Linked DNA regions of Homo sapiens. The protein of the gene in region 5 purifies or fractionates together with the protein of the main gene of each other region. This does not show direct contact. Each region holds a gene or a part of one and is shown on either strand. Other genes may lie near its edges.

What was found.
Region 1: the proteins of TAP2 (region 5) and POLD3 purify together in Homo sapiens (tandem affinity purification; one large-scale study listed by IntAct). This does not show direct contact.
Region 2: the proteins of TAP2 (region 5) and ATP1A1 purify together in Homo sapiens (affinity purification with mass spectrometry, with the first as the bait; one large-scale study listed by BioGRID). This does not show direct contact.
Region 3: the proteins of TAP2 (region 5) and P3H1 purify together in Homo sapiens (co-immunoprecipitation; one large-scale study listed by IntAct). This does not show direct contact.
Region 4: the proteins of TAP2 (region 5) and DNAJB12 purify together in Homo sapiens (affinity purification with mass spectrometry, with the first as the bait; one large-scale study listed by BioGRID). This does not show direct contact.
Region 6: the proteins of TAP2 (region 5) and UBAC2 purify together in Homo sapiens (affinity purification with western blotting; one study listed by BioGRID). This does not show direct contact.
Region 7: the proteins of TAP2 (region 5) and ATP2A2 purify together in Homo sapiens (affinity purification with mass spectrometry, with the first as the bait; one large-scale study listed by BioGRID). This does not show direct contact.

What each region holds. Positions count from the first base shown.
Region 1 is NC_000011.10:74,623,309-74,627,439, forward strand, and holds part of POLD3 (DNA polymerase delta subunit 3), read left to right. Parts: intron 1-2,099; coding exon 2,100-2,265; intron 2,266-4,131. UniProt on the Homo sapiens protein: Accessory component of both the DNA polymerase delta complex and the DNA polymerase zeta complex.
Region 2 is NC_000001.11:116,382,928-116,387,058, reverse strand, and holds part of ATP1A1 (sodium/potassium-transporting ATPase subunit alpha-1), read right to left. Parts: intron 3,690-4,131; exon of another isoform or gene 3,506-3,689; intron 3,046-3,505; coding exon 2,935-3,045; intron 2,277-2,934; coding exon 2,217-2,276; intron 1-2,216. UniProt on the Homo sapiens protein: This is the catalytic component of the active enzyme, which catalyzes the hydrolysis of ATP coupled with the exchange of sodium and potassium ions across the plasma membrane.
Region 3 is NC_000001.11:42,760,382-42,764,512, reverse strand, and holds part of P3H1 (prolyl 3-hydroxylase 1 isoform 1 precursor), read left to right. Parts: intron 1-2,037; coding exon 2,038-2,190; intron 2,191-4,131. UniProt on the Homo sapiens protein: Basement membrane-associated chondroitin sulfate proteoglycan (CSPG). Has prolyl 3-hydroxylase activity catalyzing the post-translational formation of 3-hydroxyproline in -Xaa-Pro-Gly- sequences in collagens, especially types IV and V.
Region 4 is NC_000010.11:72,344,662-72,348,792, forward strand, and holds part of DNAJB12 (dnaJ homolog subfamily B member 12), read right to left. Parts: intron 467-4,131; coding exon 289-466; intron 1-288. UniProt on the Homo sapiens protein: Acts as a co-chaperone with HSPA8/Hsc70; required to promote protein folding and trafficking, prevent aggregation of client proteins, and promote unfolded proteins to endoplasmic reticulum-associated degradation (ERAD) pathway.
Region 5 is NC_000006.12:32,835,508-32,840,106, forward strand, and holds the start of TAP2 (antigen peptide transporter 2), read right to left. Parts: upstream 3,233-4,599; 5' UTR 3,146-3,232; intron 2,731-3,145; 5' UTR 2,727-2,730; coding exon 2,234-2,726; intron 2,145-2,233; coding exon 2,030-2,144; intron 267-2,029; coding exon 136-266; intron 1-135. UniProt on the Homo sapiens protein: ABC transporter associated with antigen processing. In complex with TAP1 mediates unidirectional translocation of peptide antigens from cytosol to endoplasmic reticulum (ER) for loading onto MHC class I (MHCI) molecules.
Region 6 is NC_000013.11:99,238,716-99,242,846, reverse strand, and holds part of UBAC2 (ubiquitin-associated domain-containing protein 2 isoform 1 precursor), read right to left. Parts: intron 1-4,131. UniProt on the Homo sapiens protein: Restricts trafficking of FAF2 from the endoplasmic reticulum to lipid droplets.
Region 7 is NC_000012.12:110,343,495-110,347,625, reverse strand, and holds part of ATP2A2 (sarcoplasmic/endoplasmic reticulum calcium ATPase 2), read right to left. Parts: intron 2,741-4,131; coding exon 2,655-2,740; intron 2,378-2,654; coding exon 2,244-2,377; intron 1,626-2,243; coding exon 1,508-1,625; intron 1,426-1,507; coding exon 1,156-1,425; 3' UTR 234-1,155; coding exon of another isoform or gene 214-233; 3' UTR 1-213.

The DNA.
Region 1 (4,131 bases), on a different chromosome or scaffold from region 5:
CCTGTAGTCCCAGCTACTCAGGAGGCTGAGGCAGGAGAATGGCGTGAACCCAGGAGGCGGAGCTTGCAGTGAGCCGAGATCACGCCACCGCGCTCCAGCCTGGGCGACAGAGAAAGACTCTGTCTCAAAAAATATATAAATAAATAAATAAGTAAATAAAGGTTGTCAGGGGCTGGACTGGGGTTGAGGAGGAATGCTAATGGGTTCAGGGTTTCTTTCTGGGGTGATGAAAATGCTCTAAAATTGGACAGTGATGGTGGATATACAACTAAAACGCTGAATGTAAAGTGATGAATTTTATTGTATGTGAATTATATCTCAATTTTTAAAAGTAACGCTTTATATGTAATAAAATTCAGCATTGATGACAAAATTTAAAGGTCATAATTGGTTATCTTTATTTGCTTGAAAAGGTTTCGTGTTTTCTTGAGTATAAAAAGGAAATGCTTTTAATCAGCTAGAAGATAGGTGACTTGATCATTCAGGTAACAAAAAAAGTCATTAAATTTTCCTTAATAATTGCCTTACAATGTTGCATTAAACTACCTCTTTACCAGTTAATTGGCTATTGGTAGCTGCATATATGTTTAAGTTGGAGTTCTCAAAATTCTGTGAAACCAAGACAGAAGAAACTCTGGATGCTGAATCTAATGTTTGATCAGTGGCATTTTAATTCAGATCAGTTTTCTGTAATTGGTAAACTCAATGCAATAGCCTCTCTTTCCTTAATCCATAGGTAGGTAGGAAGTATTTGGAGGTTTTTTTCTCCTAATGATGCAATTTTTAAAACAATTGCTATTAAAACAATATAATTTATGTGATAGATTGCAAAATTTGCATAAATTTTAAAGCTACACATGTGACTCCAGTGAACTGTATTTTTTGGATTGGCTGTTGACCCCTAGACCCCTGGAGATGCATGTTTACTCTTCTATACAATTTGGGATATTTGAGAGGCACTGATACTTGAGAACAACAGTTGAAAATGCAAGAGTATGCCATCGTTGGGAAGGTGGATTCCACCATTCGCATTTTCCATTCAAGTCTTCAGGAAAAAGAAAAGTATAAATAGATTGCATTTTACACTTTGGTCCATCAACTACCCTTCAAATAATACACATTATTTATAAATTATTGTACTAAGCTATGCATAATAGCCCAGACTATGATACCAATTTTTTTCTACACTGTAGATGGTTTAAGCTATTATACAACATATAACCAAAACTACTTATTGAAGCACCTCCAGCTAATGACAGCTTTCTAATAGTATTTTGTGCCTTTACTTGTGAAAAGCTATCACTAAGTACAGCGTGAAGGCTAGATGACATGCTTCTATAGTTCCTCAGATGGCTAGGCCTGTTTGCATTTCTTAGTTCTCCCTGCTGCACTGTAGTCATTCTTCAGCTTGGTGTAGGGAAAGGGTTAAGGACTTTGAGGAGTTAAACTGACTTTGGTTCAAATCCCTACTCTTTTCTGTCAGTGTTACCTGGATAAATCATTTAACCAATACTGATCTCTTTTAATCCTTATGATAATCTTGTAAATATTATCTCAGGTTTAGAAAAGACTGACTTAGATAAAATAACTTGCCCAGAGTGAAGCGGGGTTTGAACCAAACTTCTTTGACTCCAAAATAGTCTTTAAATTTTATCATTAAGGTAGTAGTGAGATATTAAGGGTATCCAGGCATTAAAAGATAGAATATATAGAAAGCAAAGGTCTTGCTGCAAATCGTTGTCACCATTTGTAAACTGTGTATTGTTGGGAAACATCTTGTAATCCTTCTGATTCTTGATTTTCCTCATCTGAAAATGAGAAGGATGATGCCTCATAAAGTTGTATGTGTTTTTTCTAAGCCTTGCTTTTACTATCATTTAGCCTGGGGGCTGTGATACAATGAGGGATTAGCAGGAGGCAGAAATGAAAAGTTACAGTTAGAGTGGTAGTTGGAAAGGAGGAATGTTTCTGAATAGTCCATGAGCTCCTTTTTGCCCCTGCTCCTAACATATTACCTGGCACATGGTAGACTGTCAAAAGAATGATGTATTAATATTGCATGATGGGGTCATATGTCGTCTGCTATACTTTATTTATAGATAAATTTAAAGTCAATTTGGACTCAGAACAAGCAGTGAAAGAAGAAAAAATAGTGGAGCAGCCTACAGTGTCTGTCACGGAACCAAAGCTGGCAACTCCTGCAGGCCTGAAAAAATCCAGCAAAAAAGCAGAGCCTGTTAAGGTGCTGCAGAAGGAAAAAAAAAGGTAGGAAAATTTTGTTGCTTATTGGGGAAGAGTCTTTACTGGGGGTGAGAAGGTCTCTTTGGGCTTATTGACAGCAGGCAGTTTTCAGTTAAGTACTAAATCCTACTTAATGCCTAAGGGATACAACTATACAACCAAAATGGAAAGAGAAGCCCAGTAGCTTATCTAGTGGAGTAGGACCGTAGGATCAGCCAGTTTGGATGATTTAAGGACCAAAGTCGTGTTTTTGGCCGTATTGATCTAAATTGATTGTTGATTTTTGTTTTAAATTTGTGGACATGGCATAAGTGTGCCTAGTTGTGTGTGTGTGTGTGTGTGTGTGTGTGTGTGTGTTTCACTTCAAATTGCCAAATGAACAGTTACTGTTTCCAGTCAAATTTAAGAGAAAAACTTCTTTGTTTTCTTTTTATATCAATGAGTTTATTTTTCAAGTGGTAAAATGTAATTAGAAAAGAAAATAAAAAGCACATAAAGCTATTAAAACTAGATCCAGGAATTGGAGACACTACCTCATAGTTGGTAGAATTAGTCTGCTGAAAGAAATTCTAAAGGACACTGTCAACACTGATAGGCCTAGAAAGACGACTTTTGTGGCAAGTTTGGGACTACTCTCGTTGAAAACATCAACAAAATGGTGAAATTTTAGAGGGTTAAAGCTCTGTCCAGTGGGCCTCACCACCTAGGAACATATGACTTGTATGGATTAAAATGTCCACAACCATGGGTACGTCACTCACTGTTGATACTTATTGCCAGCAGTGCATTCAGTATTTCACTACTAAATGTGATGATAAATGTAGATTTTTAATAGATGCCGTTAACCAGATTGAGGAAGTTGTTTTTTGTTCCAAGTCTGCTAAGAGGTTTTATCATGAGTGGGTATTGATTTTGGACAGATGCTTTTTTGAATTGATTGGATGCTCAGATGGTGTTTTTATTAATGTGGTGAATTACACTGATTTTAAAATGTTAGGCCAACCTTGTGTTCTTGGGATAAACTCCACTTGGTTATGATGTATTATCCTTTTTTATATATTGCTGGATTAGATTTGTTAATATTACACTAAGCATTTGTTGCCTGTGTTTATGAGGTCTACAGGTCAGTTACATTCTTTTCTGGTAATGTCTTTATCAAGTTGCTGTGTCAAAATTGTGCTAACTTCATAAGATTACTCATGCGCTGCATAACGATGTTTGGGTCAACAATGGGCTGCATATATGACAGTGGTCTCGTAAGATTATAATGGAGCTGAAAAATTCCCATTGCCTAGTGACATCATAGCTGTCATGACATGGTAGCGCAACACATTCCTCACGTGTTTGTGATGATGCTGGTATAAATATACCTACTGTGCTGCCAGTCATGTGAAAGTATATCATATATATTAATAGTTATATATACATAATACTTGATAATAAAAATGACTATGCTACTATAATTACTGCACTATACTTTTTATCATTTTAGAGGGTAGTCTTTCTACTTATAAAAAAAGTTGACTGTAAAATAGCCTCAGGCAGCCCTTAGGAGATATTTCAAAAGAAGGCATTGTTATCATAAGAGATGACAGCTTCATGTGTGTTACTGCCCCTGAAGAAGACCTTCCAGTGGGACAAAATGTGGAGGTGGAAGACAATGATCATTGATGATCCTGACCCTGTGTAGGCCGAGGCTAATGTGTGTTTGGGTCTTAGCTTTCAACAAAAAAAGTTTAAAAAGTAAATAAAAAATTTTTAAAATAGAAAAAGGCCTATAGAATAGGGATATAAAGAAGAAAATATTTTTGTACAGCTGTACAATTTTTTGTGTTTTAAGCTGTGTTATTACAAAAGAGCCAAAAAGTTATAAAATTGAAAATACAGTTA
Region 2 (4,131 bases), on a different chromosome or scaffold from region 5:
TTAAAACTCTTTAAATTGATCCATCAATAAATTTGAATTCAGCCTGGTTTCTTCTAAGTTTTAGATCAAGGGATTAATGCCAAATTGCATTTCTGCCAAAAAGGTATCTATTTTCACAAATCCATTCAGTTTTGCAAATTAAGAGCTTTGGGTTTTCTGTGTATTGATTTTGTCGGGAGGGGAAAAAAAACCCCTCTACAAACATCAAAGGAGAAAAAAACTTCCTGTAGAAATCCTTTGGGTTAACAGCCAAGTTTTAAATATACAGCTTGATTCTTTGCTTGTCTGGCAGGGAAGGGCTCACCTCCATGTGCATTTTAGCCACCTCCCAATAAACCTGTTGACTGAAAAGTACTCACTGGAAAAAACCACTCTACTAAAGCCTGCTATTTTTCTAATGGGCCTTAAACCCAAGATTCACTGACAGCAGGCAATTACATATAAGCTCTCATTAAGAGAGGAAAATATGATCACTTTTATACTCTCAAAATAACAAGTCAAAAAAAAAATAAAATATTTTTGTCTAAAGTATCTATTTATCTGTGTTTTGTGCTCATGTTACCAAACATTTGAGTGCTATCTACATGCCAGGAACTGAATTCAGTGCTTTAATTAACTTGTTTAATTCTCATGACAATCCTTTTTTAGGCATTATTAACCTCATTTTATAAGTAAAGAAATAGACCCGCAGCATTTGAGTAATGGGCATAGGTCGGAGAGAGCACACTTCATTAAGACTCTAATAAAAACTTAAGTGAGATGTGAAGTGGCTAGAGACTGCCTGGCACAAAGTAAGCACAGAGTCACTGTTGGCATGTTGTTCTGAGCTGACTCGAGGCCTCCTCTTGGAGCTTAAAGTGCTTGTGTCAAGAAAAACGCTCTCAACCTTGTTCTTCTCTCCTTTTTTTTTTTTTTTTTTTTTTTTTTTTTTTGAGATGGAGTTTCACTCTTGTTGTCCAGGCTGGAGTGCAATGGCACAACCTTGGCTCACTGCAACCTCCACCTCCCAGGTTTAAGCAGTTCTCCTGCCTCAGCCTCCCGAGTAGCTGGGATTACAGGCATGCACCACCATGCCAGGCTAATTTTGTATTTTTAGTAGAGACGGGGTTTCTCCATGTTGGTCAGGCTGGTGTCGAACTCCTGACCTCAGGTGATCCACCAGTCTCAGCCTCCCAAAGTGCTGAGATTACAGGCATGAGCCACCGCACCCGGCCTCTTCTCTACTCTTACACCCCAACAATCAACACAGAAGATGACTTCTGTGAGCAAAGGTGTGGCGGTTTCTCCCCACCACCAAGGTTTCCTCCAATTCAATTCCAACACTATCTACCTGGAAAATCAGAAAAGTGGAACAAGATTAGAGTCCTGCCTTGCGACAGGTGAAAAGGAGGGCAGGAGAGAGATCCTGTTTCTTGAAGCCTGCCACTGAGGTCTAACACACCCAACATTATAACAAACGACTGTAATAAGGGCTATGGGAGTTATGAACCAGGAACTGTGGACAAAAACCAATATATATCAGAATACCACAGTACCCATGTCTCTTGATGCCTTACTGAAAAAATGCTACATATTGGCTTGCTATTCAAGTTATTCCCAGACATTTCAGTGATTATCTGGAAATAAGACATCCCTAGACTATTTACTTTTATAACATTTGTTACACATTTAATATCAAAATCCTCTACATAACAAGGATACATAACGCCTATTTTATGAAAAGGTTTCTTTAATTTTTGTACAAAACAATTTCCAACTAAATGATAGAATAACTAAACAAATGATAGTATAACCATAACACACTGCAATGGGCTAGCTGGGAAAAGTGCAAAAATGGGAATTGTTGAAGATTCAACTAGGTGAAAGATTCAACTCTATTTAACAAATGTAGAAAAATAAAGGGAAAATTTATCATCAAAAGGTCAAGGCATAAGCATGGCTTTGAAGCCAACTGCAAGTCCTGGTGTTCCCACTTACTGGCTCTCAACTGCTATAAAATAGGGAAAAGAAAATAACATCTACTTTCAAAAAGTTTCAGGGAAAAGAAACGGTAGCATATAAATGCCCAAATTCTGTGCATGTCACATGGTAGATACGCAGATGGTGTCTGTCATTTTCTTACTAGAGCCCCTGAGGTTAGACCTGTATGTAATACAGGGGAAAATATAATACGGAAAACTAGGATTTTGTACAACAGCTTTCAAACTAGAACATACCCGGCTCAAGTCTGTTCCATATTTACGATGAAGTTCATCAAGGCTAAGTTTATGATCATCCTAAGGGAAAACAGAAACAAAGAAAATAGTTAAACAGTGTAGTATAAAAAAATGACAGAAAAAATAGCATTATTCATTACTATCATTAAGCTTATTAAACAAAGTGCAGATGTTTTCTTCAGTGCATAAGTTGGTACAATTTTCACCATCGCTTTGTGGCTTTGCAACCACACAGTTATCATTGACAGCTCTTCACTGGAGAATGGCTAAAGCTGAGTGACCGTGGCCCATTACTATTTGCCATAACACTTCAGAGAAACCCAGCAGCTCTCAGGGATCTAGTAAAACCTTATCTGCCTTCTCTGATGACCAGGTCGATTCTAGACAGGTTAAGTCTATGGAAGCTTCCATCGCCTGGAGAGGCTGAATTTCCCAATGTTTGATATAATACAGAGAAAAGCAAAGACTCATGGTATCAACCTAAGTTCCTTCTGTTATCTCTGGTTATGCCAGAGTGACTGAATAACTTTTCCTACCCTCTAACAGCTTTTAAAAAGTATATGTTCAACATTAACCTCTACGACTAGATGAGATCTGTACAGCTGCTATGATCTCTTTTAATATATAGCAGTTCTTTGAAGAATACAGTGAGGCCTGGGGGATTAAAAATCATGGATTTTTAATAAGGATGGAATACAATATTCCTCCTAGTACTTACCATAGAAACTTCTTTCTTCAGTTCATCCATGTCCCTGTCTTTTTTGCCCTTTTTGCCCTTTTTATCACCTTGTTCTGAAACAGCTGCAGGCTCATACTTATCACGTCCAACCTGTAGGAGAATGTGGGAAAAGTGAGGCCATGAATTATGAACCTCATCTGAAACTGAAAATTCTGGAGCAGGGGATTTTGGTAGTTTTTAAGGTAGTCATAATTTGGAATAGTCATTAAGATAATAGTCAGGAAAATGTATACCCATATATTGCCTACTACATAAGCAAAGCAATCTACTATTAATACATTGGCTCAAGATACATTCTCTCCATCCAAGAGCATTAAGAACAATACTGAAGCTACCGGTAGGCTTCAGAATGGCCCTGCCAGTGCCACTTCCTTTTGGGGTTAATGAGGAGATTTTTGCTATCAAAATCCCTATTCTGCAGCCTTCCATCTTCCCTACTGAAAGAATGAAACTAACTTTACATTATTAACTTAGAGTGCAATATTGTGCTTATGAGTCCGCATTCTCAATCAGACAGCCTTGAGTTAAAATCCTGGGCTTTACCACTTACCAGCAGTGTATCCTTAGGCAAGTTACTAACTTCTACATTTCAATTTCCTCTTCCACAGCGTGGAGATAAAGAATAGTGCCAACCTCATTTCATGTTTTTAAGGATTAAATGATACAATACATCTAAATGCTAGTACTTTTATACTGTTTATATTCTTTGCTTTGCAAAGACATTATTACATATCAAATTTAAATATCTTTAGTGCTCACATAAGAACACTGACCTTTACCAGCTTCCCATATTAAAAAGTCAGCCTAAGACTCCTTAAAATTCTTTGCATAAGAGATAAAAAAGGGAGCGCCCAGCCCATTCTGTAGCCTGAAAATAAAACCTCCAAAATGAAAGTCTCTGGAAATGTTTTGACATAAGCAGGATGTAGGAAAAGCGTGTGCATTATCACATAATTCACAGGATCCACCTACGCCTCTTGAAAACTGGAACAATTTTTAAAGAAAATGTTGATTCTATAGTTTAAATTTAGATTGTTCCACTCCCCCACCCCTGTTGAAAAATCCTTGAGCTTATCTACACAAAGCCTGAACTTGGTGCTCCAAAGCTTAGCGGAGCAGAAGAGCCCCTTGTTCCAGACACCTCCCCCTGAAGCAGCCTCCCACAACTACAACTTA
Region 3 (4,131 bases), on a different chromosome or scaffold from region 5:
TACTGCCCAGCCAGTCAGTGAGTCATTAAGCCCAGATGTGATGCTGGCCTGTCTCTTTTCTTTCTTTCTTTTTTTTTTTTTTTTTTTTTGAGATGGAGTCTCGCTGTTGCCAGGCTGGAGTGCAGTGGCGACCTTGGCTTACTGCAACCTCTGACTTCTGGTTTTCTGGTTCAAGTGACTCCCCTACCTCAGCCTCCCGAGTAGCTGGGATTACAGGCACGTGCCATCACATCCGGCTAATTTTTGTATTTTTAGTAGAGATGGGGTTTCTCCATATTGGCCAGGATGGTCTGGATCTCCTGACCTTGTGATCCACCTGCCTCGGCCTCCCAAAGTGCGGGATTACAGGCGTGAGCCACCGCACCCAGCCCTCTTTTCTTTTGAGACGGAGTTTCGCTCTTGTTGCCCAAGCTAGAGTGCAATGGTGCGATCTCGGCTCACTGCAACCTCCGCCTCCTGGGTTCAAGCGATTCTCCTGCCTCAGCCTCCTGAGTAGCTGGGATTACAGGCACATGCCACCACGCCCAGCTATTGTTGGTCTCAAACTCCTGACCTCATGATCCGCTGGTCTCAAACTCCTGACCTCATGATCCGCCCGCCTCAGCCTCCCAAAGTGCTGGGATTATAGGCGTGAACCCCCGTGCCTGGCCACGGCTGGTCTCTTTGATACCAGTGTCCACATAGTTAATTACTAGATCATCAGTGATTTATTTGGTTGGATTCTATATATGAAACCTGTGTTACTTTGACATGCTGGAGTCCATTGCTGTGGGCATTGTGGTCTGTAGCCTATTTCTCCCCCCTTGGATTTCTTTTTTTTTTTTTTTTTTTTTTTTTTTTGAGACAAGAGTCTCGCTCTGTCACCCAGGCTGGAGTATGGTGCTGTGATCTCGGCTCGCTGTAACCTCCGCCTCCCGGGTTCAAGCGATTCTCCTGCTTCAGCCTCCCAAGAAGCTGGGATTACGGGTGTGCGCCACAACGCCCAGCTAATTTTTGTATTTTTAGTAGAGACGGGGTTTCACCATGTTGGCCAGGCTGGTCTCAAACTCCTGACCTCAAGAGATCTGCCCCCTTCGGCCTCCCAAAGTGCTGGGATTACAGGCATGAGCTACCGCCCCCGACCACCCCCTCAGATTTCTTAGAGCTATTTGTTTGAACCTCATGAGCCCTGAGCTTTGAGTCAGAAAATACTATGTCTGGACTTAGTAAAGGACCTTAGAATTTTTAGCCATCCACCTTTTCCCTAAATGTCTCAAAAATTCTTCATTTTATTTTATGCAAAAAAAAATTTTTTTCTAGGAAAATTCTTAGGCATAGTCTGTTAGCTGCTCTTTTTTCTCTACCCCTAAATCCTTGAAGCCACAGAATTTCTTCAGCTCAGGCATTACATTTGATTCATGAAATATATATATGTATTTTTTTTTTTTTGAGTCAGGGTCCTGCTGTGTCACCCAAGCTGGAGTGCTGTGGCACCATCTTGGCTCACTGCAACCTCTGCTTCCCAGGCCCAAGCGTCCTCCCACCTCAGCCTGCAGAGTAGCTGGGACTACAGGCATATAGTACCATGTAATTTTTGTATTTTTCGTAAAGACAGGGTTTCACCATGTTGCCCAGACTGGTCTTGAACTCCTGAGCTCAAGTGATCCACCTGCCTCGGCCTCTAAAAATGCTGGGATTACAGACCTGAGCCACCGCACCCAGCATGAAAACATATTATGTGGGCAGTCAGTCTTTCACAGCACTCCCCATACAATATGACCTTTGTTTTAAAATGGAACATTGCTACTTCCTGTAATCTGGGGAACCCCTAAATCTGACTTGGGAAAGAGCTACAAATCTGCCCAGGGCACTATGCTCCTAATCTGTCGTGGGTAGTTCCTGCAATAGGTGTGCTTCCTGGGGCTGGCAGGGGCTGGGCACGCTGAGTGGAGGGCTCAGGGAGGCAGGGATTTCCTGTTTATGTGGACTGCTCATGTGGACACAAACGTTCAGAGATTGGATGTGAGCATTATCCACCTTCTCATGCTTCATTCTTAGATCAACAAGTTGGAGAAAGCTGTTGCTGCAGCACACACCTTCTTCGTGGGCAATCCTGAGCACATGGAAATGCAGCAGAACCTAGACTATTACCAAACCATGTCTGGAGTGAAGGAGGCCGACTTCAAGGATCTTGAGACTCAACCCCATATGGTGAAAAAAACTTTATCCCCTTCTTTCTTTCTTTCTTTTTAAATTTATTTTAGAGACAGAGTCTTGCTCTGTCACCCAGGCTGGAGTGCAGTGGCTTGATCATAGCTCACTGTAACCTCAAATTCCCGGACTCAAGAGACCCTCTAGTCTCGGCCTCCTGAGTAGTTGGGACTACAGGCATGCATTCTTTTGTTTTTTTTTAAATGACATTACTAAGGTTGTTTTCTAATTACATTACAGAAGTAATGAATGTTCATTGTATAACATTGTAGAAATGTAGGTAAGTATAAAATAAAAAGTAATCATTTGTAATACCGCCACCTTAAGAAAACCAGTTTATATTTTGCCCTATTTTTTAAGTCTTCCGTATATAATTTTTTCATCTAATTTGGTGTTATATCATGTATGCATTTTTTATCATCTTTTTTATTTTTTTTGAGGCAGGGTCTCACTTTGTTGTCCAGGCTGCAGTGCAATGGTGTGATCATAGCTCACTGCAGCCTTGACCTCCTGGGCTCAAGTGATCCTCCCGCCTCAGCCCCACAAATAGCTGGGACTAGAGGCATGCACCACCATACCCAGCTATTGTTTTTATTTTTTGTAGAGACGGGGTCTCACTGTGTTGCCCAGGCTGATTTCAAACTCCTGGCCTCAAGCGATCCTACTGCCTTGGGCTCCCAAAGTGCTGGGATTGCAGGTGTGAGCCACCATGGCCAGCCCCATCATCATTTTTTAACTAACATTATTATCATGAGTCTTTTCTCATGTCTTCAGTTTTATTTGAAAACATAATTGTTTATGGCTGCATGATAGTCCATCTTATGCAGAGACTATATTAATTCACTAGTCACATTTTTTTGGTCATGTATGTTTTTGATTTTCACTACAATAAATGTTACAGTATCCTTCAATGTTCTCATTCTATTTGTTTAGCAGGAAAAGTTCCAAAGGAGGGACTGTCTGTGATGATATAGCATTTTATAGAGAGTTTATGGTTCCTTACATTTTAATTATAAAATAGGAATGTTAGAAACAATATAAGAATGACTTATAGGCCAGGCGCAGTGGCTAACACCTGTAATCCCAGCACTTTGGGAGGCCGAGGTGGGTGGATCACTTAAGGTCAGGAGTTTGAGACCAGCCTGGCCAATATGGTGAAACCCCATCTCTACTAAAAATACAAAAATTAGCCAGGCATGGTGGCATGCACCCGTAATCCCAGCTACTCGACATGGAGGCAGGAGAATAGCTTGAACCTGGAAGGTGGAGGTTGCAGTGAGCCAAGATTGTGCCACTGCACTCCAGCCTGGGTGACAGAGCAACAGTCAAAAAAAAAAAAAAAAAAAGAATGACTTTTAAAAGTAAGTTGTGGCCAGGTGCAGTGGGTCACACCTGTCATCCCAGCACTTTGGAAGGCCAAGGCGGGCGGATCACAAGGTCAGGAGATTGAGACCGTCCTGCCTAACATGGTGAATCCCTGTCTCTACTAAAAATACAAAAATTAGCTGAGCGTGGTGGTGTGTGCCTGTATTCCCAGCTACTCAGGAGCCTGAGGCAGAAGAATCGCTTGAACCCAGGAGGCGGAGGTTGCAGTGAGCCGAGATTGTGCCACTGCACTCCAGCCTGGGTGACAGAGCGAGACTCCATCACACACACAAAAAAAAGTAAGTTGTGTTGGCCGGGCGTGGTGGCTCATGCCTGTAATCCCAGAATTTTGGGAGGCCGAGGTGAGTGGATCACTTGAGGCCAGAAGTTCAAGACCAGCCTGGCCAACATGGTGAAATCCTGTCTCTACTAAAAATACAAAAATTAACCAGGTGTGGTGGTGTATGTCTGTAATCCCAGCTTCTCAGGAGGCTGAGGCGCTAGAATCACTTGAACCCAGGAGGTGGAGGTTACAGTGAGCTGAGATCATGCCACTGCCCTCCAGCCTGGGCTGTC
Region 4 (4,131 bases), on a different chromosome or scaffold from region 5:
CCTGCCTGGCCAGCGGCAGAGGAAGCCGGCAGTGTCAGCTTTTCCAGCCTCTGCTGTGGGTCGTGGCGGGAGGGGTGGTGGAGCCCCAGTTCCCACACTGTATTCCTGGGCCTTGAGGGAAATAAGGAGAGGTCCTGGTGAGCCTGGACCCTTGGACCTTCTCCATCCTCCAAGACCCTCCCAGGGCCCTGTGCTGCCCACAGGCAGATGGGAGGTGGAGGACATGCTCCAGGAAGCCTCTAGATTTCCCCAGTCTCCCCAGGCTCCAGCCCCTGCCCACCCATCTACCTTTTCACAGCTGCAACCTGTTCTGCAGTGTAGCCTTTGGTGCTCTCTCCTCCAGCTTCACCGTTGGCCGAGGGGGCATCGGTCCCACCTGCTTTCCTGTGGGTGGCATGGGTTGTGTCTGTGGGTGGGGGTTGGTCACCGGCAGTCTGTGGTTTCTGGTTGAGGGACTCAATCAGGGCTGTGCAAGGCAAGGAAACCATTCAGAGCTCCTGCTCAAGCAGGCTGCGTGCCTCGCCGAGCGGCCCGCTGCTTCCCACTCACTTCCCCTCCCAGCAAAGCCACCAGCTCCTGCCCTGATTAGGCCTGTGGGTGCTGGGGGGACAGTCATCTGCTCTCTTGAAAGCCATAGTCCTTAAGAGTAGGCAGGACAGGCCGGACGTGGTGGTTCACACCTGTAATCCCAGCATTTTGGGAGGCTGAGGCAGGCAGATCACCTGAGGTCAGGAGTTTGAGACCAGCCTGGCCAATGTGGTGAAATCCCGTCTGTACTAAAAATTAAAAAATTAGCCAGATGTGGTGGCGGGCGCCTGTAATTCCAGCTACTAGGGAGGCAGAGGTTGCAGTGAGCCAAGATGGTGCCACTGCAGTCCAGCCTGGGTGACAGAGTGAGACCCTGTCTCAAAAAAAAAAAAAAAAAAAAAATCCGGGCACAGTGGCTCACGCCTGTAATCCCAGCACTTTGGGAGGCTGAGGCGGGCGGATCACCTGAGATCAGGAGTTTGTGACCAGCCCGGCCAACATGGTGAAACTCCATCTCTACTAAAAATACAAAAAAAAAAACCCCAAAAGACATTTAGCTGGAGATAGTGGTGGGCGCCTGTAATCCCAGCTACTCGAGAGACTTGAGAGGCTGAGGCATGAGAATTGCTTGAACCCAGGAGGTGGAGATTAGCAAGATTGTGCCACTGCACTCCAGCCTGGGCGACAGAGCAAGGATCTGTCTCAAAAAAAAAAAAAAAAAAAAAGTAGGCAGGATAGAGGTCTTTTTCGTTTTACATGAACAAAATTAATTTTGTTAATAAAAATTGACATAAAATTCTACATAATTCATGGATAAATCTGTAGTAATTGCTTTATTTTTCAGATAGTATACTTATACATATATCTCTTTTCTTAATAAATTTAGGCAGAATTCTGATATTCTGATAGTCTTCCAAAAGCACACTTGGTTTTATTAATAAACCCTATAGTACTTTATTTAGAGTTATTTTTTTTTATTTGTTTGTTTATTTGAGATAGAGTCTCACTCTGTTGCCCAGGCTGGAGTGCAGTGGTGCGATCTCAGCTCACTACAACCTCTACCTCCCAGGTTCAAGTGATTCTCATGCCTCAGCCTCCTGAGTAGCTGGTACTACAGGCACGTGCCACCACGCCTGGCTAATTTTTTTTTTTTTGACACGGAGTCTTGCTCTGTTGCCCAGGCTGGAGTGCAGTGGCATGATCTTAGCTCACTGCAACCTCCGCCTCCTGGGTTCAAGCAATTCTCCCGCCTCAGCCTCCCTAGTAGCTGGGATTACAGGCGCCCAGCACCATGCCCAGCTAATTTTTGTATTTTAGTAGAGATGGGATATCAACACGTTGGCCAGACTGGTCTTGAACTCCTGACCTCAAGCAATCCACCCATCTCGGCCTCCCGAAGTGCTGGGATTACAGGTGTGAGCCACCGTGCCCGGCCTAATTTTTGTATTTTTAGTAGAGATGGGGTTTCACCATGTTGGCCAGGCTGGTCTCGAACTCCTGACCTCAAGTGATCTGCCCACCTCGGGTTCCCAAAGTGCTGGGATTACAGGCATGAGCCACCGTGCCTTGCTAGAGTTCATTTAATACTACTTTAATTGCTATTTCTTTCAGTGTATTTGGTTTTACTCTGCTTTTTGCTTTTATGAATCCAACTTATGAATCCATTTTTTTCTACTGAACTCATTCAAATCTGCAAATATGTTTGCATTGCACCACATTTTGAATAAGTAAAATATTCAGTCCACTGCACTACTCCCTATTTTTACCATTGGTTTTTTTTTTTTTTCTTTTTTGAGACGGAGTCTCACTCTGTTGCCCAGGCTGGAGTGCAATGGCATGATCTCAGCTCACTGCAACCTCTGCCTCCCGGTTTCAAGCGATTCTCCCGCCTCAGCCTCCTAAGTAGCTGGAATTACAGGTGCACACCACCACGCCGGCTAATTGTATTTTTAATAGAGATGAGGTTTCACCATGTTGGCCAGGCTGGTTTCGAACTCCTGACCTCAAGTGATCCGCCTGCCTTGGCCTCCCAAAGTGCTGGGATTACAGGCATGAGCCACTGTGCCCAGTCAACCCTTCAGATTTTTAAGATCTCAAAGTAGTGAGTTTAACAGACTTGGCATGTTGAGTGCCAAGCTGGGAAAAGTACCCTGCAAAGGGGACCCCGCTTAGCAGGACCCTCTGTTTCAGGTGGGATCAGTCAGGAAGCCTTCCTGGAGGCCTTTGCTTAGCTGTAAAGAGGAATGGGGGAAATGAGTTTGCCCAAGGGGGACACAGATGGTAGGAGACCAAAAGAAGTATCTGCTGTGCTCACAACTTGCTATTTTTCACATTTTTCTAATGCAAGTGGTTGGCCATGCCAAATGTCCTCTTCAATGTCTGGAGTCTATACAGGACATTAACTATCACCCTCGGCAGCATCATGGCTATTGAAAACCAAGCCCGGCTGGGCGCTGTGGCTCACGCCTGTAATCCCAACACTTTGGGAGGCCGAGGCGGGCGAATCACAAGGTCAGGAGTTCAAGACCAGCCTGGCCAACATGGTGAAACCCCGTCTCTACTAAAATACAAAAATTAGCCGAACATGGTGGTGGGCGCTTGTAATCCCAGCTACTAGGGAGGCTGAGGCAGCAGGATGGCTTGAATCTGGGAGGCGGAGGTTGCAATGAGCCGAAATCATGCCATTGCACTCCAGCCTGGGCAATAGAATGAGACTCTGTCTCAGAAAAACAAAAACAAAAACAACCAAGCCCACCAGGCATGGTGGCTCACACCTGTAATCCCAGCACTCTGGGAGGCTGAGGCGGGCAGATCGCCTGAGGTCAGGAGTTTGAGACCAGCCTGGCCAGCATGGTGAAACCCCGTCTCTACTAAAAATACAAAAATTAGCCGGCGTGGTGGCAGGCGCCTGTAATCCCAGCTACTCGGGAGGCTGAGGCACAGAATCGCTTGAACCCGGGAGGCAGAGGTTGCAGTGAACTGAGATTGTGCCACTGCACTCCAGCCTGGGCAACAGAGCAAGACTCCATCTCAAAAAAACAAAAGCAAGCAAAAACAAGCCTGTGGTTCCTGCAGATTAAATGAGGAAGGGCCCAAGTCTCTGGCAGCAGGTCCCTGTGTCCATTTATTCCAGGCACGAAACCTCAGTCAGGCCTGGGCCCCAGCGCCCTGGGTAGTAAAATCCTAAAGCCTCTGACAAGCTGACCAGCTGGGAAAACAGGCATCTGGATCACTGCAGGGACCCAGCATCCCTCTGTGCTAAGGAAGGACAGCAGCACATCCCAGCACATTCCTTCAAACACGCCAGGTGCCTGCTGGCCTGAAGACGCCATGCTGGGTGCCACACCCACCAGTGCGACCCACTGAGGTCTGACCCAACAGGCTGAGAGCCAGTCTCACTGGGAACAGAGTATGGGGCTCCAGTGGAGCACTGTGCCCTGGGCCACTGCTGCCGCACTCCGAGCTTGTGTGATCTTGCTGAGTCTTCAACTGGGAAATCCAAACACAGGAGCTCACAGCTGGGGTTGCTCTGAGTAAGGGAGGCGGGCTCCTGTAGCAAACCCTGAGAGGGTGCTTGGGGAGGAACAATAGCAACAATCATTT
Region 5 (4,599 bases):
CCCTGTCCCAAACAAGAGAAAAGCATCCCCAAGTCCTGGCATACGGGTGAAGGCAGGAGGAGAGGCTGTGGGTGGAAGGTCACTGAGGGGCAAGGGATGTCCATGGGAATCTCAGACCTGGACTCCAGGCCCCACCTGTCTTAGTCTCCTGGAAGAAACCGAGGTCCTGGCGCAGCAGGGAGGAGAAAAGCTGCTCCCGGATCCGCAAGTTGATTCGAGACATGGTGTAGGTGAAGCAGCCTCCTCGGCAGCCTGCAGACAGTGAGCTGTGGGGTAGGAGAATAAGAGGGGAGGGAGATGCAGAGAAGGAGCAAGCCAGCGGGTGAAACAGAGGAGCAAGCCAGGAGTGCAGAGAAGCGCAAAGTCAGGGGAAAGCATGCCAGGAGGGGCAAAAGAGAAAGAAATGAGAGACAGACACACAGAGAGAGAAGAGGTAAGGAATACACAGAGGAAGAAGAAAGAGGAGACATGGTGAGCTAGATGTGAGAACAAAATCATAACATGTACAAATTTACAAGTATTTATGGAGTGCACTCTGTACTAGACACAATAGAAAACTACAATAGAAGGGAAAAGATATTGTGAAAACAAGTATCCCAGTGCTTGCTTCTGTCCCAGCGTCCCTCAGGCTTGTCCCTCTGTGCGTCTCCTCCGCCTTGGTCTCCTTCCTGCCCCATACCCAAAGCCCTTCTCTGTCATCATAGATACTTCATCATGGGAACTGCAATAATAAATTCCCTGCCCCCACAATTCTCTGGAGCCCCAGAGTCATGTGATTCCCATCTTTCATCCTTCGAGTTGGAAAATCCCTCTTAGACCAACTACATGCTACAGTAACACTTAGAGGAAAAAATATAAAGCATAAAAGCATGTATTTTACAAAATATATGTTTCTAATACAAATTTAGTTACCATATTGAAGAGGCGTTTGGGAGAGTCAGACATGATATAATGAGGGTTTGTACTTTAATGACAGGGATGTGTTCTGAGAAATGTGTCGTTAGATGGTTTCATCGTTGTATGAACATCATAGAGTGTACTTACACAAACCTAGATGTCATAGCCTACTGCACACCTAGGCCATGTAGTTTAGCCTATTGCTCCTAGGCTACAAATCTGTACAACATATAACTGCACCTAACACTGTGGGCGACTGTAACACAGAAGTAAGTATTTGTGTATCTAAACATAGAAAAGGTACAGTAAAAATATGGTATTATAATCTTGTGGGTCCACCATCTTATATGTGGCCCATCATTGACCTAAACTTCGTTATGCAGTGCACGACTGTAGTTTCAGCAGAAAGCAGCCAGGATGGAATGAAGGCACAATGAAATGGTTTTCGAGGGTACTCTAAATTAAGTATGACCATAAAAATAGAGACAATCAGGCCGGCTGGGATTTGGGTAAGGTGAGTGCACACCTCCTTAAACTTTGCACCCCAGGTGCCTCGCTCACCTCATCCCAGTCCCAGCCTTATCAAACAGTTTGTTTGTTTGAGTATGTCTAGAAAGAGAAAGGAAAGCAAGTGAAGGGAAAAGAGTAATGATTCTGGAAAGAAAGGTGATAAGCCTCAGAGTAAGATCTTCAGGGACTGGCAAGATGAGCTGGGAAAGAAGAGTGAAAGGGAGAAGCATACCCATCCTGAGGGAGTGACCCTGGAGAGATACTTTGGAGACAGACTTAGGGGTAGGAGGTAGGAGGCAGAAAGAAATGGAATTTCATGGACCTAGGAATGTTGAGAGACAACTGAGAGACATTCCATCTGAGACTTAAATTCCTTTTGTACTACCTTCACTCATAACTTGTTCCTATAATAAGATCAGATAAACTTTGAAGATATTGGATGAATATGAACGAAGGAAGAAATGAATGGATAGATGAAACAGAATGGTGACTACATTCACCATATTTTAGTTTAAGTATTTTTGTGTTTTGCGCCTGAAAGGGCCTAGAAATGGAGTTAGGGAAGTGAAGACCCCTATAAAGATTTGGGGCTAGCAAATGGACCCAGCTGCCCACCACCTACCTGCCAAAGGAGAAGAGGCACATGAAGAAGATGGCACTGGCAAAGGCATGGGGGTCAAAATCACCTCCCAGGATGTCAATCACACGACCAGAATAGTGAGGGATTAATGTCTCACCTGAAAGAGGCATGAAAAATAACACAAGAATGTGCTGGTGCCCAGGCCCTTTTACCACCTCCAACTCACAACGTCCTCTCCTGACTCACCCAAAACAGCAAGGACAAGGAAGAAGAAGGCGGCAACGAGGAGAGGCAGGTCCGGCCTGGAGAGCTTCAGCAGCCTCCACATCAAGACTTTGTTGTTCACCTGGTCCTGCTCCTTCTCCTGGGCTCCAGGAGGGCTCAGAACAGCCCACAGTGACCAGCTGAGCCCCGCAGCCCCGTACCCCACCAGCAGCCAGCTCCAAGGGGCTGAAGCGACTCTGGCTGGGGGAGCACGTGAGGCCCCCGCGACCAGGGCTCTCAGGGAGACAGTCAGGGGGGTGGCCAGACAGAGCGGGAGCAGCAGTGTCCCCACAAATCCCAGCAGCCCTCTTAGCTTTAGCAGCCCCCACAGCCCTCCCAGCCGCAGGGTCCCCTCCAGCCATAGTCCTGGCAGCCCTTGAGGAAGCAAAGTCCCCAGAGGGCCCTGAAGCAGCCACAGTAAAGCCGCGTCCACCAGCAGCAGGGAGGTCCAGGGTCTCAGGTCAGGGAGCCGCATGGCTCTGTCAACGGATACGAGATGAGAAATCATGGGGGTGGAGTCCCAATCCTTGTCCCTGCCCTCCTACCCGCCCGGCTCCGCCTAACCCGTCCATCGGCTTCTCATTTTATCCTATTCAACCCTGAGAGCTCTCCTGAGTAACCGGTGCTCATCCGTACACCCCTCCTACGACAGACAGCTTTCGGCCTTCTGGGGAGCTGGAAGCATGACCATCAGGAGCCTCGTGCTTAAAAAAAAAAAAAAAAAATCCCCGGACCCCCACCCCCACCCCCGCCTGCCGCGGCGAGCTAAGTGGTCCGGGCTCCGCTCCCTCCTATCGCCGGGTGCAGAGGGACTGGGAAGCAGGAGCGTGGAGTGGGTAGTCACTTGGGCTGCGTCCCTGTTGGCGCTCCAGGTTCCCCTCCGCACCAACTCACCAGCCGCGGCGGGGAGACCGCAGCTCCGGGGACTTCTGCTTCAGCGCTGAGGTCCGCTCCGTCTCTCCCAACCTCGCTACCGGCTCTGGTCCGCCAGCTACGCTCGGCCAGGGCGGGCGTCAGGGCTCGGGCAGCTTTCGCTTTCGCTTCCCCAGCCAAGGCCTTCATTCTGGGCTGGGCCGCCGGGAGGGGGCGCGCGAGACCCGCAGACAGCGGAACTGGAGCCCGAACTCTGGTTCGCACTGTACAGGCCTGCAATGAGTCTCACTCGCCTTTAGTGGCGGTTACTCTGGGATATAAAACTGCAAAAATGTTTCTTTATCATTAAGTAAAATACAGTTGTCTCAAGGGCAACTTTATCTGTTGTCCTTGCTTTGTAATTGGAGAATGCTTTGTAATTGGAGAATCACTGAATTTTCTCAAAGTTACTACTTCAAGCTCTGAGCCTACTATTAAGAAGTGCCTTCTTTCTGGTCCGGCGCGGTGGCTCACGCCTGTAATCACAGCACTTTGGGAGGCCGAGGCGGGCGGATCGCCTGAGGTCAGGGGTTCGAGACCAGCCTGGCCAACATGGTGAAACCCTGTCTCTACTAAAAATACAAAAATTAGCCAGGGCGTGGTGGCGGACGCCTGTAATCCCAGCTACTCGGGAGGCTGAGGCAGGGGAATCGCTTGAACTCAGGAGGCAGAGGTTTCAGTGAGCCGAGATCGGGTCATTGCACTCCAGCCTGGGCGACAAGAGTGAGACTTCGTCTAAAAAAAAAAAAAGTGCCCTCTTCCATGCAAGCTCCAGTTTTAGGCGAGCGAGCCGGGCTCTCCTAAATAGAAGGTTCCAACCAATCTCACCAGGCCAAAGGGGATTTTCACGTACAGACTTTGAATTTAGTAGGCCCTGAGCGTTCATCTTCATCCGTCCTTCTCAGCCGGAGCACCTTGAGCTGGCGCGTGTTCAGGTGCCTCTGAGTCTGTACTCCAAATTATGTTGGGCGCACCTTCAGCCTATGAGGGAAATGCCCCGTACTGAGCTTTGGTTCTTGTTCTATTTTAACACTGTTTAGAACAGTAATTAGGTTTTTAAATATCCTTCCTGACCCAGAGCCTTCCTATGCAACAGAAAGATTCGTTTATTCCAGAAAGGACTCTTCAGATTGAAACCACCTCCCAAACTAAAAACAAACAAACAAACAAATTCCCCAAAGGAAGGGTCGCTTGGATTCCAGATCACCATTTTGAAATGTTACCTGTGTGACTACCAAGGAGTCACTTAAAGTTTAAAATAGTGGTGGTGGGGAGGAGGGATTTTAAGTAGGGGCTCGCTAAAGTTTTACAACTCTATTCATTCTGGCATTTTAAGAATCTCTCTCTAATGAAAAAAGCTCCATGCTCAAGCTCATGCTCCTACTTTCAAGCATTTGTTTCCTTTATTTTCTGGAAAGTGACATGGTCCATAGTTC
Region 6 (4,131 bases), on a different chromosome or scaffold from region 5:
CCCGGCCGCCCCGTCTGAGAAGTGAGGAGCCCCTCCGCCCGGCAGCCACCCCGTCTGGGAAGTGAGGAGCGTCTCCGCCCGGCAGCCACCCCGTCCGGGAGAGAGGTGGGGGTCAGCCCCGGCCAGGCCAGCCGCCCCGTCGGGGAGGGAGGTGGGGGGGGTCAGCCCCCCGCCCGGCCAGCCGCCCCGTCCGGGAGGGAGGTGGGGGGGTCAGCCCCCCGCCTGGCCAGCCACCCCGTCTGGGAGGTGAGGGGCGCCTCTGCCCGGCCGCCCCTACTGGGAAGTGAGGAGCCCCTCTGCCCGGACAGCCGCCCCGTCCGGGAGGGAGGTGGGGGGGGCAGCCCCCCGCCCGGCCAGCCGCCCCGTCGGGGAGGGAGGTGGGGGGGTCAGCCCCCCGCCCGGCCAGCCGCCCCGTCTGGGAGGTGAGGGGCGCCTCTGCCCGGCCGCCCCTACTGGGAAGTGAGGAGCCCCTCTGCCCGGACAGCCGCCCCGTCCGGGAGGGAGGTGGGGGGGTCAGCCCCCCGCCCGGCCAGCCGCCCCGTCCGGGAGGTGAGGGGCACCTCTGCCCGGCCACCACCCCGTCTGGGAGGTGTGCCCAGCAGCTCATTGAGAACGGGCCATGATGACAATGGCGGTTTTGTGGAATAGAAGGGGGGGAAAGGTGGGGAAAAGATTGAGAAATCGGATGGTTGCCGTCTCTGTGTAGAAAGAAGTAGACATGGGAGACTTTTCATTTTGTTCTGTACTAAGAAAAATTCTTCTGCCTTGGGATCCTGTTGATCTGTGACCTTACCCCCAACCCTGTGCTCTCTGAAACATGTGCTGTGTCCACTCAGGGTTAAATGGATTAAGGGCGGTGCAAGATGTGCTTTGTTAAACAGATGCTTGAAGGCAGCATGCTCCTTAAGAGTCATCACCACTCCCTAATCTCAAGTACCCAGGGACACAAACACTGCGGAAGGCCGCAGGGTCCTCTGCCTAGGAAAACCAGAGACCTTTGTTCACTTGTTTATCTGCTGACCTTCCCTCCACTATTGTCCTATGACCCTGCCAAATCCCCCTGTGCGAGAAACACCCAAGAATGATCAATAAAAAAAAAAAAAGTTGAAAAAAAAAAAAAGTTAAAATTTTAACTATTGAGTATACAATTCAGTGGTATTAAGCAAATTCACAATATTGTACACCCATCACCACTATCTATTTCCAGAACTCTTCATCATCCTAGACAGAAATGCCATGCTAACTTCCTGTTCCCTCTCCCCTTAGCCCCAGGAAACACTATTCTACTTAATGTCTCTATGAATTTGCTTATATTAGATACCTCATGTAAGTAAGATCATTTATTTGTCCTTTTGCATTTGCTCATTTCACTTTGCATAATATTTTCAAGGTTCATGGTAAAGCATGTATCAATCTCATTCTCATTTATAGTTGAATAATATTCTATGGTATGTATACACCACATTTTGTTTATCCATGTATCTGTTAATAGACATTTGGGTTTCTGCCTTTTTGCTATTGTGAATAATGCTGCTGCGAACATTGGTAATAGTAACTCTTTTCTTTTTTTTTTTTTTTTTTTGAGACAGGGTCTCACTCTGTTGCCCAGGCTGTAGTGCAGTGATGTGATCACATCTCACTGCAGGCTCAACCCTCTGAGACTGAATCAATACTCGCAGCTCAGCCTCCTGAGTAGCTGGGACTACAGGTGTGCACCACCACACCCGTCTAATTTTTGTATTTTTTGTAGAGATGGTGTTTTGCCATGTTGCCCAGGCTGGTCTTGAACTCCTGGGCTCAAGCAATCCATCCACAAACGTTGGCCTCCCAAGGTGCTGAAATGACAGGTGTGAGCCACCACACCCAGCCAACTGTCTTAAGGAAAAAGAGGCACAGAGAAACTAAAGTTTGTAAAGTCATACAACCTGTGCTCTTGCCAACAGAAATAAGAATACAAATGAGAAGTCTGAGCATATCAACTGTCAAAACCTGTCACATATGTCTCTACTCCAAGCAAGACACCAGGCAGAGTCTTTGTCATGACTGTACTGGCCACCAGAGTTCACCTCACCTGCCAGCCCAGCTGAACTGGGATGGCTGCCTCTAAGGCTGTGTTGAGGCCATAGCTGGGCTCAAGGAGAAACAGTACCGGAGTCACACTGAAACTTTAGGCAGCATATACCTCCATCAATATGATCAATGAGGCAGTACACGAGAGCACATAGGAAACTGCCAAGGACTTTACCAATGTCCGATGATGATGACTGTCATCTCCTCAGAACACCAGATTCAAAAACCATAAGAGGCAGCTCCAAGTCCTCTATCCCCACATTTAATATTACAATGAAAATACTCTACTCAGGGATAAGCTCTGAGAGCCACTAAGAAAATCTGAGGATTAAGGAAATGGAGAGTTTGTAATTACTAAGATATAACAAACTGCATTTCTAGAACCCCATTTTTTCAGTTAATGAAAATAAAGCTGCTAGCTACAGTTTTAAATAATTTATGTGTTGCAATCATACTCAAGGACACAAAACTATGAGAGCTGGTATAAGAATAAACCACTGCATATTATTATACAGGTGAATGTCCCCTAAAGACTGGTAACTGGCTACCGGCTTGCACTCAGCAAAGCACTGCTTCTGCAACTCAACCTAAAGAAAACTGACTGTACCTCTGCATTCACTGCCAAAATCTGGAGGTTCAGAACTTACAAAATAAAGCCCTTCATCAACTGAGCCCTCCTGGACTTCTCCAATCTAAGCCTGGGTTTGCCTCAAAGCACGCTTCCTGTACCACACTCCTAAGGGTCTGAAATTCATGTTACTTCCTGAAGTAAAATGCCCTTCCCTCTCTTCATTGCTAATTAACAGTCATCCCTTCTTTTTGGACCAAACTGAAGGCTCACACCCCTAAGACTCTCCAGAGGTAGGCCCCCAATACTGGTCCCTATTTCCTTGATCACCCCCCAAGGATGTCATGTACACCTGTGACCTACAGATCACGTTCTTATGTGTATGCGTGTGTTTAGATTTCCCAAGGCAGAACTGCAACTCCCATATCTCTCATGAATACACACTGAGAGCCTCTTAGGTGTTTTAAGTGTTAATCTGGATGTGGCTATTCCCATTCCTGGACAGAAGAGTGGTCTTCTTCCATCCAAGCAGGTCACCACCTTTAAAGCACAGATGCCCACAGAGTGGGCTTAGCCAAACGAACCAAATTAACTCCAGAAATTAGGAAGGTATCAACCCAAGGCCCGGGGGCCCTTACATTAGTGGTCCTCAAAGCCAGCCATACACTAGAATCCCCTAGGGGTTGTTTTTAAATGTACAGCAATGCCCAGGCGCCACCACCAGACTCTGTGACTCAGTTGTTCTGGGGCGAGATACTGTGTTTATATAAATCTAGGTATAAATTATACCTTCACGTAAGTATAGATATGGAGACAGATCTTTGAAGTTTTTTCAGGTGATTCTAATGTGTGTCCGGGGTTGAGAAGGACTGCATTATAGCAACTGAAATAATACAGAAGCTACACTATCTTCTGACAAATCAGTAATACGGATAAATAACTAAAAGACCTGCACAGTAAGTTGGTGAAGCCAATCTGAGCAATGGTATTAATTATATCACTATGAAGAAAAGGTGTCAGTGTTCAAGAAATGGATTATTATGCTTAAAATGGGCTAACCAAGTGCTTAGCAAAGAAAGGGTAGCAGTCATATACCAGAATTTGCATGAACACTCCAATTCATAGACAAGAACCCAGTACTAGCATTTTCAACAAGATCAGTCCAGAAACCTTGAAAAGCACTTCTGCTCTTTCCCACAGCAGAAACTCAAGAGAAATTTCTTACTTCGTTTAACCACCACTGTAAAAGTTATCAAAAATTCATAATCTGATACAGCTGACAGAGCCTAGCTCCTCTAATCAAATATTCAAATTGAGACAAGGTTTTGGCAAAGCTAAGTATGCCTACTGGGCATTAAAAAAAGATTAAACATTGTTTTTAATTCCCTTGAAGTTATAAATTACACTTCTCTGAGTAAAAAGTGAAACTGAAAACAAATGTGCCTAATAAAAGGAAATACTGCCATTGCTTCATTATTATCTGTTTTGCTGAA
Region 7 (4,131 bases), on a different chromosome or scaffold from region 5:
TGTTCATTTGGTCATGTGCTATTTACAGATTTTACAAAACACACACATACACACACATACACACTTGCCCTTATGTTCTCTATACCAGGCCAGCAGAAACTTGCATAAAATGTACATCACAGATGACAATTAGTGCCTGTACATTAAGAATACAATTCCTATGACTACCTACACAGCAGAGCAGGAGCCTTCTTCCCCTCAAGCAGAGTACAACTAAAGTTCTGAGCTAAGAACTGGAGAGAAAGTTGGACATGTCTGTTAGTCCCAGGTAAGCCACTTACGAGTTAAAGACAAGACAGTTATTTTTCTCTGTCCATTTAAAATGTTTTATTTTTTTAAAACTAGATGACGTGCCACTGAAATAGGCAATGTTGGCAAAACAATGTCTGTTACAATAAAATACATTAGACATTTAAATAAATAACCTTAAAAACTATGTGAAGGGACATAAACCCAGTCGATTGAATCTGGAACAATGTTTTCTGCACAAGCGAGTACAGGCATACCTCTCGTTAAAACTGATGTAAACAGAACGAACCATCACAATCCTAAAGAAGAAGCCAAGCGGGGCGGGGGTAAGGTGGGGAGAGGTGGGGTGGGGTGGGGTGAACGGAGGCCAAAGTGGGTGAGGGAAGTAGCAAACCAAAACAATACTGACTGAGGTAGCAAGACTCTGCTCAGTGCAGAAAAATTGGCTTATGAATAAAAATTAGACTGTGATATCAAATTAAATCCGGATCATCATGCAAAAGACACAATACATGCTATTTAGTTTTAGAAAAAAAACCACACACATTCATTTCCTAAAATCTGCTGCCAATTAATTTGCTGACAATGTCTGCTGGCTCAACTATTTTTTTTATACAAGGATGAGTATTAAACAGAACACTGTACATGCTTTTTCATCTACAAAAAAATATTTGCATAAAATAGTGTTAGTTCTCTGTACATGTCAATGGACACTTTAATTATGTGTATAAAAAAGGAAAATCTTGCCCCACTGGAGTCAGAAAAAGCAAAACAAAATCTAGAGTATGAAACCTCCATCACCAGCCAGTATGTTCATGTGAAAATTCAGCAGAAATAGACAGTTGCTTTAAACAATAAAAAAATTAATTGATTAAGTTAAACATCTTCTTTATGGAAAACTGTCAGTCAAGACCAGAACATATCGCTAAAGTTAGTGTCTGTGCTATAGACCCAGATCACCAGGGGCATTATGAGCAGCACAAACGGCCAGGAAATCCCATCGGTGCATGCCGAGAACGAGCAGGATTTGGTGGCAGGCTGCACACACTCTTTACCAGGTTCCAGGTAGTTGCGGGCCACAAACTTGAGCGTCTCATCCATGAGAATCACGGGCAAGGAGATTTTCAGCACCATCAGCCACTGGGTCACGTTCAGCGGTGTGATCTGGAAGATGAGCTGACACACAGGGAAGACGTGTCACGCCTCCAGCCTCCCCTGGAAGGAGGTGGCTGGTCCCAAGCCCCACCCAACCACTTACTGGCAAGGGTTCGACATAGAGGATCAGGAAGTGGAGTGACATGGACAGGCAGATGGAGCCCACGAGCCAGATGTTCTCCCAGGGGGGCATCCTCAGCAAGGACTGGTTTTCGGACAAGCTGCAGAGCAAGGAGAGGTGGGGAAACGCACCCCCAAGGCAAGGCACGTGTCACAGTGGCAGTAAGACCCTGTTGGACTACACTTCAGTAAGGCGGCTGTTAATGTGGCACCATCCGCTGACCTACCTCCACTTTCTACAGTGGCAAAGTTGAAGAGAATGTCCTAATGCAGGACAAACTGTGAATTCTGTATCTATGTTTTGGCATAGCAGACCCCATCTTAGTGGGTTCAAAGCTGTTCCCAATTGCCCTGGAGACTTGGGCTATTTAGAAATTTCCATTTTTGTCACGGGCTTAACTGGATGGTACCATTTGTCTGTGTGAAAGGGTGAGGTTCCTTCCCTGTGGGTGCTGGCATACAGGGGTACCAAAGTTCCTATTTTTGGCCCCCACGGTTTCTTTTAAGGAAGAGCTCCTAAGAAACACAGGGCTAAGCACTCCCACTACTTCCTGGAGGTGACGACAGCTCATGCTTTTAAAACTGGTATTGCCTGTTCTCCTTTCTTTTGGGAAGGGAAGAACTGTCCTGTGATCCTCAATCAACCGTGACTACACACAATTCCCCGGTGCCCTGGCAGTCACCATGCTCGCCTCAGCCTGCCGTGAAGGTGCACTAACCTGTTGAGGGCGTTACACATTTCTATAGTTACTAGAACAGAGAGCGCCATTGTCATCGGGTATGGGGATTCAAAGATTGCACAATCCACGCCTTCAAAGTCCGGGTTGTCCTCTTTACACTGTAGGAAATGACTCTGCAAGAAAATCCAATCAAATTCCTATCAGCCCAGTATATTTCCCAAGTCCAGGCTCCAACCCCATACCAAGCCTAGCACAGACCAGCCTGAATGCAGAGCCAGCCAAGAGGTTTACCCCAATTTCTCGGAGAAGCCCTGGTCCTTCAGAATCATCTTAGATGTAACTGTTTATTGTCTGAGTCTTAAGATGATTTGATAGATACCGAAACCACAGAAAGGTCAAGGCCTCACAACACTTCTCATGTAAGGTACAGAAAGAAAGGTGACTGAGTACCAGCTGGTAGAAGGACACTCTTGGACCACCGTCAGCAGCAATGAACCACCATGCAGCAGCACCCACGGTAGCAGCGCCGACGTAACCTGGGAACAAACACAGTGATGCTGATGCACTTGCCTCTGCAGGGCTCGCTGCCACCGAGGCCATGCAGGCCAGTCCCCACAAGGACGAAGATCAAAGACATGGGACAGTGATGGTAACCGGGGCCTGTGGTGCTACCACCACCTGCTCACGCCTGGTAGCCAGAGCAACTAGACCCTGGTTTCTGAAGGACAGGGGTGTTTCTAGAACAGAAGAACTGGATAACTTTTCCTCCAGAATGTGTGAGAAAAAGCACTTGCTCCATCCTGTGCCAACCTTTCCCCTTGCCGTGCCTTCTCCCCTCAGTGGGTAGTACTTCAAGGCTGCAAGTGTGTGTGTACTCCATGTAAGGCTGCACAGTTTGAGGGACTAGATTACACCAGGACTTTTGGACAAACTATTGCTGCCTAGTTGTACACAGATTTATTTGCTCCATTAGAGGCCCAGCAGCAGTTTTCTAGGGAAATGCTGTCAGGAGCTAGGGTGGAACACTGAGCAGCATGGCCCTGCCCTCAGCAGCTTCTGGGATTCCCCCCAGTATTAGCTTTGAGTTCAGGAAGTTTATTGCAAAGAAGCAACAAGGTGCAGCAGAGAATACACAGAGTTCAGACGAGGCAAATATCCCCATGTGGTAGCATCAAAAACAACAAGTGCATATACCCACTAACCCACGAATTACAGTGGAGCATGAAGGCCGCTGGCTGCAAGGATGAGGCACTACGCATGTCCGGATATGGAAGGATCTGACAAGCAGGAAGAAGGCAAGACAAGGGTCAACATGCAGGTGTGCACAGCATGCTGGAATCTCTCCGGAAGGGCACAGGGTACATGAGCACCTCAACGCCAGAGGGAAGTGACTGGCCCAAACCCTTTCCATTCTATGCCATTGTGTGCTTTTTGAATTTGAAGTCATGTGAATATATTATGAAAACACAATGCCTTCCTATGGGATCCCAGGGAAGTGATTTCACCTCACTTTCCCAATCTATGAAATGGGGAAGAACCCGGGGTGAGGAAGATGAGGGCTAAAGAGATGATTTATATATAAAAGGGACCAGCCACTGCGCAACCCTTCTCTTATGGAAACAGGGACTAAATTTTATAACTTGGTGACAATTATCTATTTAAATCCCACCTATGAACTCTTGGAAGGCAGAACCTAGCGTGAATCATTCTTATCCCTTTGCACAGAGGGCTCAATCTGAAAACCCTGATGTTTAATTGCTCATTCAGAAAAGCCCAAGTAAGGGCAGGATGCTAAAACTGGAACTAACTGTGAAAGGACTCTGGTAAATTGGATGTATAGTTCATCGAACTGTAAGAGGGCATCTCTGTCTTTTGCTACCCTATACGGGGATAGAAGAAAAAACACGCTTTTAAGGGATGAATTTAC